Regions from separate parts of the Homo sapiens genome. Here regions 1 and 2 are each reported to be linked to region 3. The links are microRNA targets in miRTarBase. Many come from high-throughput screens and were not tested one by one. Region 3 holds a microRNA gene; each other region holds the end of a gene's coding sequence.

What was found. The annotated mature microRNA hsa-miR-148a-5p reads AAAGUUCUGAGACACUCCGACU and lies in region 3 at 2,234-2,255, shown strand. An mRNA with a match to its seed (bases 2 to 7 or 8) in the 3' UTR can be bound and repressed. Matches are read on the target gene's strand: a 7mer-m8 pairs with bases 2 to 8, a 7mer-A1 pairs with bases 2 to 7 and ends in A, and an 8mer does both.
Region 1: the mRNA of CDADC1 is a reported target of hsa-miR-148a-5p. Seed matches in the 3' UTR shown: 7mer-m8 at 929-935.
Region 2: the mRNA of ABCA1 is a reported target of hsa-miR-148a-5p. The part of its 3' UTR that is shown has no 7-base or 8-base seed match.

Annotation. Positions count from the first base shown.
Region 1 is chr13:49,290,861-49,295,063 of GRCh38, forward strand. CDADC1 (cytidine and dCMP deaminase domain containing 1) reads left to right here. Exons shown (of 10, transcript NM_030911.4): 10 at 824-2,625. The coding sequence ends at 897. Among named protein-coding and RNA genes, the nearest start is that of CDADC1, 45 kb to the left of the region's middle.
Region 2 is chr9:104,780,601-104,784,844 of GRCh38, reverse strand. It overlaps ABCA1 (ATP binding cassette subfamily A member 1), which reads left to right. Exons shown (of 50, transcript NM_005502.4): 50 at 390-3,839. The coding sequence ends at 530. It also overlaps a transcript of NIPSNAP3B not described here. Among named protein-coding and RNA genes, the nearest start is that of NIPSNAP3B, 19 kb to the right of the region's middle.
Region 3 is chr7:25,947,971-25,952,214 of GRCh38, reverse strand. MIR148A (microRNA 148a) reads left to right here and starts at 2,229; the gene lies at 2,229-2,296. The region is part of intron 6 of LOC105375199 (a long non-coding RNA gene); the gene reads left to right. RefSeq lists silencers at 456-665, 786-1,005, 1,136-1,275 and an enhancer at 4,119-4,188.

The DNA of each region.
Region 1 (4,203 bases), not on the chromosome of region 3:
AAGCTATACACTTTATGTTTAGTTTATTGCATACTTTAAACATGTATCATTTATTGTACAAATAAAGCTATTAAACACAAAAGCCAGGAAGAGGTTGAAGCCATACTCTTTTCCCAGCCTGCCCAGTCAGATAAGTCCGTCTTCCTTCCAGTCCCCAGATTCTCCCTACCCCACACACAGTCCCCTTCTCCCTTAGGAGGTACATTTTATTTCTTCCAGTCTAGTAATAGGACGTCCCCCCACCAAAAACATAAAACAAAAAGTTTTATGAATTACTTGCCGTACACTGTTGAGTGAATTCAGTTTTTGGTTTTTTTTTTTTTTGAGACAGGGTCTCGCTGTGTCACCCAGGCTGGAATGCAGTGGCACAGTCATGGCTCACTGCAGACTTGGCCTCTCTGGGCTCAAACAGTCCTCCCACCTCAGGCTCCTGAGTAGCTGGGATTACAGGTGTGCGCCACAACACCTGTTTAAAAAAAAAAAATTTTTTTTGTAGAGATGGGGTCTCCCTATGCTGCCCAAGCTGGTCTTGAACTCTTGGGATCAAGTTATCCTCCCTCCTCAGCCTCCAAAAGTGTTAAAATTACAGACGTGAGCCATTGCACCCGGCCAATGTGAATCCAGTTTTTAAAAGCCAGATTCTGTATTGCCTGAGAGTAAGTTATCTAGATTGGATTCTCTACAATTGAGAATTTGAAGATAAAATAAAGTGAAAGTTCCTTTAACTTAAGCATTGTTTTGCTCTTACAACATGTAAGGCTGAAACAAGTGCCCATGGGTTTGAAATGAAGCTGTCCTGACCTAGCGTTATTCTCAATGCTAGATGGTGTGTTGAGACCTGTCCCACAGAAGGAAGAGCAGCACCAGGACAAGAAGCTGCGCCTCGGAATCCACTAAGAAGGCCTGTCTACACTGCAGGGGAACCTCAAGAACTTTTCATTGCACTTCTAAAATTCAGCCTTGTTCATTCAGAAAATAAGGATGGATTTTGTGAATAATTGAAAAGATTTTTTAAGGAAGCTAATTTATTTCTAGGATACAAATGGTGTTAATAAGAATATTTGTCTTTTAGATTTATGTGTGGGTTTTCCATAATGTAGTAGTGTGTTATTTTATTACACGAAATGAGGGAGCAATAACTTCAACCAATGTAATCACCAACAGGGACTGATTTCTATTTATCTTGACTTTATATTAGCCAATTTGAAAGGGTCTGCTTCACAAGAGGTCATGCCTCTGCAGGGAATCACACACCTTTTGAGAAATATTAATTCTTTTGAATTACAAGAGTGACAGTTAGTAAACTGCTCCAGGGAAATAAGTGTCATCTTTTAAGAGTCAGTGTATAGCAAACCAAAAGATCACATTTATACCCAAAGCTTTCTAGTAATCAGAATTTACTTAATTAGAATTGACTCATAAAAATAAAGTTAGTGGACTTTGTCTCCATTTTTAAAGTATATTTTGTAAATGTTAATTCTGTGGTCCTGTTTATCACAGACTTTGGGTAGCAATAGGAAGAGAGTGTTATTCTGAGACAGTGTCGCTGCTTGATATCACTGACTCTTGAAATCACTAACAGTGAACCTCAAATTTGGTTATGATGTTAACAGAGAAGAAATATTTGAGTCTGGAATATTGAAACTAGCTTTCCTAGAATTCCATTAATAAATGCTGCTCCCCCATATAGTCTTCCCTTCTGTATAATTAACATAGGTTGTCTCATGGCTTTGATCTTCAAAAGGAAGAGCCTTTTAAAAACATTTGCCAACCTCAAGAATAAATACTGAAAGTCTTGAAAGTATGGTCATTTCAGCTATTCCAGATTGCTGTCTGTGATTTCTCACATTTTTATTTGCTGAGAAACATTCAGAAAATTATTCCAAAAATGAAGGTACATTTTCTGTTCTCTCCTAGGTTAGAGAGGGGTGGCCTGGGGTGCTTCATGAGAAATGTCTTCCTGGATCTGCGGTGGTCAGGTTTGCCTCTGCTTTTGTTCCCTGCCTTTCCGCCACATCACACGGCCTCACTGGGCTTCCTACCAGTTTCTCAGAATTACACGCACGACCATCCAAACATTGGCTCCATGCCAGGGCTGTGACTGCAGCCTGTGTAGGACCATGGGGAGTTCAGAGTCATCATACAAGGCAGCCAAGAACTGCCATAAACACTACACAGATGGAGGGCATGGGATAGGACAGGAGAGGAGGTGATGTACACTTAGAGGTAACTAAGGCTAGTTTGAAAACCGTGAATTAAGATATTCTTATCAGTATAAAAACACTGAGATTGCTTACCTCCCAAATTGCTTTATTGTATTAACTCTCATGCTTCAGCTCTTGGATTTGTTGTTTCTAACTAACATGTCATGTACACCAAACATTTTATAAATCAATCAGTAAATATTTTGTAAGACCCAAAATCCTGGCATATTGCCAGGTCTGTGGATTTGCCTGTTGGGTGTTGGGATGGGATATCAGAGGAAGAAGCATACAAGTGGGAAAAACTGTGATTAGAAAGGGAAAAATAGGCATTTCCACAGTACTATTAAGAGAGGCATGATAATGCCATTTTTTTTCTTCTGTACAACTGGTCAGATTTCAATAAATAATCATTGATGGTTTACTGTGTAGCCTCAGAAGGTGAAGTCTATGAGGGCAGGGAGGTGTGTGTGTGTGTGTGTGTGTACTTTTTAACTGCTGAACCCCAGTGTCTAGAACAGTACCTGGCACACAGTAGGCATTCCATAAATATTTGTTTATTGATTGAATGACTGCTAAACACTGCTAGACTGCGGGGATGAGATGTGTGAGAAATGCCTCCTGATCTTAAGACACTCACAGTCAAGTGGAAGATACAAGCATGGAATCAAGTAATTAAGAAAAATGATTCTCAGGCCAGGTGCCGTGGCTCACACCTGTAATCCCAGCACTTTGGGAGGCTGAGTGGGGTAGATCACTTGAGGTCAGGAGTTCAAGACCAGCCTGGTCAACATGGTAAAACCCCGTCTCTACTAAAAATACAAAAAAAAAAAAAAAAAAAAAAAGCTAGACATGGTATTGCATGCCTGTAATCCCAGCTATTTGGGAGACTGAAGCAGGAGAATCACATGAACCCAGGAGGCAGAGGTTGCAGTGAGCTGAGATCATGCCACTGCACTCCAGCCTGGACAACAGAGCGAGACTTAGTCTAAAAGAAAAGAAAAGAAAAAAATGTCTCTGGACCAGCAGACTATTTGTTAGAAGTGCATATTCTTAGGGTGCTCCCTAGGCTTACTGAATTAGAACCTCTCAGGGTGGGCCCAGCAAGCTGGGGTTTCACGACCTTGCGGGTGATTCTGGTGACCTTTAAGGCTGAGAACTGCCATTGTGGATGTAACTGTAGGAACAGTGGGGGCACACGAGGATTTACCAGCACTCTGGGGAGTCATGGAAAGGACCCTGTAGAGGCAGAGGTGATGAGGTGGGGCCTGAGGGGATCCAGGGGTTTGCCAGGTAAACAGTGGGAATGAGACAAATTTCTGGGAAAAAGTGATGGAGACAGACTGCTGAGCCACCCCAGGAGCCCGCCTGGGTTTGGAGAAGCTCTGTGGGGCACTTTTGACCCAGATCTATAAATTCCCAGTCTTCATCCCTTAGCCTGAGAAATCAGAACTTACACTTAAACAAAAAATACAATGTCTTTCTAAATTTCAAAGAATGGGAGGATGATGGTAAGTTCATAATTTGTAAAAAAAAAAAAAAAAAAAAAAAATAGCTCTGCCATTTGTTTACTGCCTAAGTGGCCACAGAATATGCTACTGTGAGGGGAGCTAAGTGTAAGCATTTGCCTGGCTTCCTTCATCCCAGTCATGCAGAACATACGCAGGTGTGTGTATTTTCATTGTATTGCTGCTGAAGCTTTTTCTTTCCTTTTTCAAGACAGGGTCTCACTCTGTTGCCCAGGCTGGAGTGCAGTGGTGCCTTCATAGCTCACTGCAGCCTTGACTGTTTTCTGTGCTCAAGCGGTCCTCCCCACCTCAGCCTCCCAAGTAGCTGGGACTACAGGCACGTGCCACCACGCCTGGCTAGTTTATTTTTTATTTATTTTTTGTAGAGACAGGGGTCTTGCTATGTTGCCCAGGCTGGTCTTGAACTCCTGGCCTCAAGCAATCCTCCTGCCTCTGCCTCCCAAAGTGCTGTGATTACAGGCATGAGCCACCGC
Region 2 (4,244 bases), not on the chromosome of region 3:
GGGTGAAACCCCGTCTCTACTAAAAATACAAAAATTAGCTGGGCATGGTGGTGCGCACTTGTAGTCCCAGCTACTTGCGAGGCTGAGGCAGGAGAATTGCTCGAACCCAGGAGGTGGAGGTTACAGTGAGCCAAGGTCTCGCCACTGCACTCCAGCCTGGGGACAGAGCAAGACCCCATTTCAAGGGGGGAAAAAAAGTCTATTTTTAAGTTGTTATTGCTTTTTTCAAGTATTCTTCCCTCCTTCACACACAGTTTTCTAGTTAATCCATTTATGTAATTCTGTATGCTCCTACTTGACCTAATTTCAACATCTGGAAAAATAGAACTAGAATAAAGAATGAGCAAGTTGAGTGGTATTTATAAAGGTCCATCTTAATCTTTTAACAGGTATTTGTGAACTTTGCCAAGGACCAAAGTGATGATGACCACTTAAAAGACCTCTCATTACACAAAAACCAGACAGTAGTGGACGTTGCAGTTCTCACATCTTTTCTACAGGATGAGAAAGTGAAAGAAAGCTATGTATGAAGAATCCTGTTCATACGGGGTGGCTGAAAGTAAAGAGGAACTAGACTTTCCTTTGCACCATGTGAAGTGTTGTGGAGAAAAGAGCCAGAAGTTGATGTGGGAAGAAGTAAACTGGATACTGTACTGATACTATTCAATGCAATGCAATTCAATGCAATGAAAACAAAATTCCATTACAGGGGCAGTGCCTTTGTAGCCTATGTCTTGTATGGCTCTCAAGTGAAAGACTTGAATTTAGTTTTTTACCTATACCTATGTGAAACTCTATTATGGAACCCAATGGACATATGGGTTTGAACTCACACTTTTTTTTTTTTTTTTGTTCCTGTGTATTCTCATTGGGGTTGCAACAATAATTCATCAAGTAATCATGGCCAGCGATTATTGATCAAAATCAAAAGGTAATGCACATCCTCATTCACTAAGCCATGCCATGCCCAGGAGACTGGTTTCCCGGTGACACATCCATTGCTGGCAATGAGTGTGCCAGAGTTATTAGTGCCAAGTTTTTCAGAAAGTTTGAAGCACCATGGTGTGTCATGCTCACTTTTGTGAAAGCTGCTCTGCTCAGAGTCTATCAACATTGAATATCAGTTGACAGAATGGTGCCATGCGTGGCTAACATCCTGCTTTGATTCCCTCTGATAAGCTGTTCTGGTGGCAGTAACATGCAACAAAAATGTGGGTGTCTCCAGGCACGGGAAACTTGGTTCCATTGTTATATTGTCCTATGCTTCGAGCCATGGGTCTACAGGGTCATCCTTATGAGACTCTTAAATATACTTAGATCCTGGTAAGAGGCAAAGAATCAACAGCCAAACTGCTGGGGCTGCAAGCTGCTGAAGCCAGGGCATGGGATTAAAGAGATTGTGCGTTCAAACCTAGGGAAGCCTGTGCCCATTTGTCCTGACTGTCTGCTAACATGGTACACTGCATCTCAAGATGTTTATCTGACACAAGTGTATTATTTCTGGCTTTTTGAATTAATCTAGAAAATGAAAAGATGGAGTTGTATTTTGACAAAAATGTTTGTACTTTTTAATGTTATTTGGAATTTTAAGTTCTATCAGTGACTTCTGAATCCTTAGAATGGCCTCTTTGTAGAACCCTGTGGTATAGAGGAGTATGGCCACTGCCCCACTATTTTTATTTTCTTATGTAAGTTTGCATATCAGTCATGACTAGTGCCTAGAAAGCAATGTGATGGTCAGGATCTCATGACATTATATTTGAGTTTCTTTCAGATCATTTAGGATACTCTTAATCTCACTTCATCAATCAAATATTTTTTGAGTGTATGCTGTAGCTGAAAGAGTATGTACGTACGTATAAGACTAGAGAGATATTAAGTCTCAGTACACTTCCTGTGCCATGTTATTCAGCTCACTGGTTTACAAATATAGGTTGTCTTGTGGTTGTAGGAGCCCACTGTAACAATACTGGGCAGCCTTTTTTTTTTTTTTTTTAATTGCAACAATGCAAAAGCCAAGAAAGTATAAGGGTCACAAGTCTAAACAATGAATTCTTCAACAGGGAAAACAGCTAGCTTGAAAACTTGCTGAAAAACACAACTTGTGTTTATGGCATTTAGTACCTTCAAATAATTGGCTTTGCAGATATTGGATACCCCATTAAATCTGACAGTCTCAAATTTTTCATCTCTTCAATCACTAGTCAAGAAAAATATAAAAACAACAAATACTTCCATATGGAGCATTTTTCAGAGTTTTCTAACCCAGTCTTATTTTTCTAGTCAGTAAACATTTGTAAAAATACTGTTTCACTAATACTTACTGTTAACTGTCTTGAGAGAAAAGAAAAATATGAGAGAACTATTGTTTGGGGAAGTTCAAGTGATCTTTCAATATCATTACTAACTTCTTCCACTTTTTCCAGAATTTGAATATTAACGCTAAAGGTGTAAGACTTCAGATTTCAAATTAATCTTTCTATATTTTTTAAATTTACAGAATATTATATAACCCACTGCTGAAAAAGAAAAAAATGATTGTTTTAGAAGTTAAAGTCAATATTGATTTTAAATATAAGTAATGAAGGCATATTTCCAATAACTAGTGATATGGCATCGTTGCATTTTACAGTATCTTCAAAAATACAGAATTTATAGAATAATTTCTCCTCATTTAATATTTTTCAAAATCAAAGTTATGGTTTCCTCATTTTACTAAAATCGTATTCTAATTCTTCATTATAGTAAATCTATGAGCAACTCCTTACTTCGGTTCCTCTGATTTCAAGGCCATATTTTAAAAAATCAAAAGGCACTGTGAACTATTTTGAAGAAAACACAACATTTTAATACAGATTGAAAGGACCTCTTCTGAAGCTAGAAACAATCTATAGTTATACATCTTCATTAATACTGTGTTACCTTTTAAAATAGTAATTTTTTACATTTTCCTGTGTAAACCTAATTGTGGTAGAAATTTTTACCAACTCTATACTCAATCAAGCAAAATTTCTGTATATTCCCTGTGGAATGTACCTATGTGAGTTTCAGAAATTCTCAAAATACGTGTTCAAAAATTTCTGCTTTTGCATCTTTGGGACACCTCAGAAAACTTATTAACAACTGTGAATATGAGAAATACAGAAGAAAATAATAAGCCCTCTATACATAAATGCCCAGCACAATTCATTGTTAAAAAACAACCAAACCTCACACTACTGTATTTCATTATCTGTACTGAAAGCAAATGCTTTGTGACTATTAAATGTTGCACATCATTCATTCACTGTATAGTAATCATTGACTAAAGCCATTTGTCTGTGTTTTCTTCTTGTGGTTGTATATATCAGGTAAAATATTTTCCAAAGAGCCATGTGTCATGTAATACTGAACCACTTTGATATTGAGACATTAATTTGTACCCTTGTTATTATCTACTAGTAATAATGTAATACTGTAGAAATATTGCTCTAATTCTTTTCAAAATTGTTGCATCCCCCTTAGAATGTTTCTATTTCCATAAGGATTTAGGTATGCTATTATCCCTTCTTATACCCTAAGATGAAGCTGTTTTTGTGCTCTTTGTTCATCATTGGCCCTCATTCCAAGCACTTTACGCTGTCTGTAATGGGATCTATTTTTGCACTGGAATATCTGAGAATTGCAAAACTAGACAAAAGTTTCACAACAGATTTCTAAGTTAAATCATTTTCATTAAAAGGAAAAAAGAAAAAAAATTTTGTATGTCAATAACTTTATATGAAGTATTAAAATGCATATTTCTATGTTGTAATATAATGAGTCACAAAATAAAGCTGTGACAGTTCTGTTGGTCTACAGAAATTTACTTTTGTGCATTTGTGGCACCACCTACTGTTGAAGGGTTATAAAGCCATTAGAAAAGTAGAGGGGAAGTGATTTGGATCAAAAGGAAAAACTTTAGAAAAGATTCAAATGTTCCCTTAATCATAAAAGAGAACTGAGGGGACTACTTGAAAATAAAAGGTTGTTTTGTATTTTCATGTTGGTTAAGATACTGAGTAACTGGTATTAAGTGTTAGAGGTTTTTAGATAAATATTCTGCTTAATGATTATGAAGCTGCACTGAGATTTCTGAAAATGCTCTGTAGCTGAGCTTATTTAATAAATGTTCACTTGGTATAGGGGAAGCTACAAAGGCAGCCTTCAGTGTCCTTTTGTTTATTCAACCAAAAATATAAGGACACAATGTAGCAGTTATACTG
Region 3 (4,244 bases):
AGGAAGGAAGACATCCTGGTCACGTGGCCATTCATCAATTTCCCTTTCTTTCTAGAACAGCATCTTCTTTGGCGTGCTTGGGGAACCACGTTAAAATTGATTCTACGTGCCCGTGACCTCTTCTCAGGGAATTCTGAGCTCCCCCGAGTCACACCCCCATCTAGATGAGGAGAGGAGGACGTGTCCCCTGGTTCAGTCTCGGGTGCCCAGTACCCAGCAGACGTCAGGGTGGAGGCAAACCGGCCTTTCGGTTAGTCCTTGTAGACGTGTTAAAAAAAAAAATCCAGAACTGGCATTTTTACTACTTTTAGTTAGCTCTTTGGCCTCTTTTTATTTGGGGATGGGTGGTGGGCAGTTTATTAAAAGAAACGACTTTTAACCTTGATGAATTCTTGATTTTGCTTTGTCCTAGAATTCCCTTACCGGGAATCTCGCATTTAGTTCTCAACTCCCTGCCAGGGGAGGAAACTGTCCTCCCGAGGTTTCCATTTCGCACTCTGCCCTGCAGCAGCTTCGCCGCCGCCTCCTCCCCAGCCAGGAGACACCGGGCCCAGGCAGGGCTCCGGCTGGGTTTGGAGGAGGGGGCTCCGGGGAAAGCGGGCATTCAGGGGCATCTTGCAAAACGCGGGCTCCCTGGGCCCAGCGGGGCTGGCCGGGGACAGCGCCCGGCCCGAGTGTCGCGGGAAGCGGAACAGGCAGCCTGGCAGAGGCTGGTGGGCAGAAGGGCGGGGCGGGACGTCGAGCCAGGTGGCCACCTGGAGCGCCCCGCCCTCCCAGCGCCGGCCGCGCCCCCGCCCCCGCCCCCACGCGCCACCGCCCACCCCGCCCCCGCCCCCAGCCCCGCGCGGCCGCTCTATTTGCATAAGGAGGCGTCTCCCGGGCCCGCCCGGGGCGCACGTGACCCCGGGGGAGGCGGAGGGAACCTGCTGACTTGACACGAGCCGCTGTGCGGCTCCCCTTGGCGCGGAATAGCGAGAGCAGCCGTGACCTCCGACCCCGCCCGCCGGCAGCCAATAAGAGCGCAGGTCGTCTCCAAACCCAAAATTTCCACGTCGGCAAAAGTCAAGATGGAAGGGAGCGGAGCGGAGCGCGAGGGGGGAGCCGGCCCGGGAATGCCTGGCGGCCGGCGCTGGAGGGGCAGGCTGGGGAGCCTGCGGCGGGCGCACGAGGGGCCACTCGCGAAGGTGTCCCGGCCCAGCGCGACCACCGCCCCCAACCCCGGGAGCCTCTGGGCGCCCCGCACTCCGCCAGCCGCCCGTGCACCCCGGCCCGGGGGACGCAGCCCACTGCCCCTCCGGCCTTGTCTCTTAGGGGTGGCGGGGGATGGAACGGTGGCGAGGGGTTTGGGGGAAGATGGGAAAGCACTTTCCAGACCTGTTGCACGCGCGCAACAGCTGTTCAGGTGCGGTATGTGGGGGGAGGGGGTCTGCTAGGATGGGGGACAGAGTGGTCGCTTATGCTGCAGGGAAAAGGGGGTGCCGGGAGGGGGAGAAGAGCAGTCTTGGGGACTGTGTGCAAGGTTGTGCGCGAACGGGGTCCGCGGGAAGCACTGCCTAATGGGGCAGGGAGAATCCCAAAGAGTGGGTGGGTGGAACGGAGGGGATGGGACGACTTCGACCCGAGTTCCCGGGGCTGGGCGCGGGCGGCTGGAAGACCGGGAATAGAGTACTGGGAATGGCTGGGGAAGGGGGTCTCAGGGGAGGCCCCGCAAAGCGGGTCTTTCTTGGGTCGTCCCATCTTAGGGGCTTTTCCCGGGCCTGTATTTGTTCCCCACCGTTTAACTCTTTCAGCTCCGAATATTCGTCCTCGTGCAGCGCCCCCGCCCCCAGCTTTCCAGATGGGAAGGTAAAAAGTTGCCACAAGTTAGAGTGAGTTAGCTGCTGGCAAAAGTTTAAATAACTACCGAGGGAGGTGAGGGTTCGACCAGGAATGGGTTCTAATCTGAGGACGGGTAGGAAGGAAGGAGAGTGTGCGATTCTTGCAGCCCCTTTGCTGTGACATTGCGACCAGAATTTGTCGAATCGGGCTGTTAAAACACCATTTCTGTTGGGCATTTGCTCCTGCTGACTGCGGCAGTAACTTTCCATAATTAATGACCCGTTCCATTATCGGTCGCATCCTGAACTAAATTGCTTTTAACGAGTTATTCTTCTTTGTCTTAGCTGGGGGGTGGGGGAACACACCTGCAGGAAGAAACTTCTGGAGGAAGACAGCACGTTTGGTCTTTTGAGGCAAAGTTCTGAGACACTCCGACTCTGAGTATGATAGAAGTCAGTGCACTACAGAACTTTGTCTCTAGAGGCTGTGGTCGCCGATGCCGCCAGTGCTCCAGACGCCAGGCCGAGTGGCCCTGGTGGCCACGTCGCTGCGCCTTTCCCTTGGGGGAGGGGCAAGGCCAGAGGGGGTCCAAGTGCAGCACGAGGAACTTGACCAATTCCCTTGAAGCGGGTGGGTTAAACCCTGTAAATGGGAACAAAATCCCCCCAAATCTCTTCATCTTACCCTGGTGGACTCCTGACTGTAGAATTTTTTGGTTTAAAGAAGAAAAAAATAAAGCTTTGGACTTTTCAAGGTTGCTTAACAGGTACTGAAAGACTGGCCTCACTTAAACTGAGCCAGGAGAGCTGCAGATTTATTAATGGGTGTGTTAGTGTGCAGTGCCTTGCAGGAATTTAAACTCTCTACCCTTAAAGAAGGAAATGTATTTGTACAAAAGCCACAGATAATGGTCCTTTTACTCAAGCGACCTGCTGGATAAATGACAGCCTGCAGGGATTGAGTTTGGAGATCTAGTCTCAATTCTGCTTCCGATTTAGATGCAGTTCACTTTTGTTTTTTAAAGTAAGTTTTATTAATGGAAAGGAAGAACTTTTTCCAAGAAAGCATTTTGAAAGCCACTGGGGGAGGGGGACATTTATGCTTTTGGGCTGTGGAGATCCTTTAGGTGGAGAGACTGCTCTCTCATCCCTAGTGGAATGGAGGTTTGGGTTGGTGAGTTTCTATCAATAGCCTGCTCTCTATAGTGGGTCAGTGACTGGCACCAAATTGTAGTCCTGTTCCATGGACATTGCCCTGTTTTGGTTTTATGAGCTTTTGGCCAGGCACAGGACGCAGGGTGGTAGGGAAAAAAGGAAATGGTTCCTGTGCCCGTGGTGCTGACAGGTAAGGGAAGGGCCTTCTGATGTATTTTATGGGATGCTTCAGAAACCTGGGGGTTGCTTGTGTCTCTGGGAAGCCCTTGGTAAAGAAAGCCACCATTTTTTTTACTTAGGTATATTCCAGTGGTTTATCATCGGGAGAGGGATGATAATGGAGGAAGGCTCAATGAGGGAGAAAGTATTCAGCTGCTTGATGTTAGAGCTTAATGGCAGGACCTACCAGTTGCTTTTCACAGAAATGCTGTGTATTGATCCTAAGGCAGCATGTGTTCTCTTTTGTGTGGCCATTATCCATTCTCCCACTTTTCCATCAGTGACTGCTTTGCTTTTGTTCCTCAATCCTTTACCCAAAAATGGCTGAATTATTTCTGTGCAGTTAAATAAAGTGATCCAAACTCAAGTACGTCTTGTGTTCATTTGAGATGTAAGGTATGCTTACTTGAGGAAGAGGATTCTCTTTCCTAGTTCTTATGTCTGTACATCTCCACAAGATAGTCTGAATATACTGAATTTTAAGAAAACTTAAATCAACTTTGTAAGAGAATGGGAGGTAAAGAGTGGAGCGGTTGACTGGGAGAGTAGTCATCCATACAAAGGAATTAGGTCAGGATCTCTCACCTCCAGAGAAAGGCAAGGTTTGGAGTCCCTGACATGATTCAGTCTGGTTTGACTTCTATGCTTAAGTGATTTGCATTTCTCCTGTTTGTGACCACAAGTGAGTTAAGGACTAACCAAGCAGGAGGGCTGTGGTTTACTCTGGTGCTAAGGATGCCAGGAATAGGAACTGGGAAAATCGGCAGTCTTGGGGTGCTTACTGTAAACCTGGCATGGTCTCATAGACCTCAGTCGTTTAGCAATCAGTGTATTTTCACCTCCCGAGCATCAGGTGTTACTCTAGACGTTACGAATGCAACAGTGAACAAAATAGGCCCCGAACCCTGCCCTCTTGGAGGTCTTTCTCATGCAAGAGGTAGACAATACAAATATAAAATAATCAGAAGGGTGATAAACGTCAGGGAAGGAAGAACAAGGAACGCTGGGGAGGCCGTGGTGTTCATTTAACCCAGATCGCTGGGCAAAGGAAAC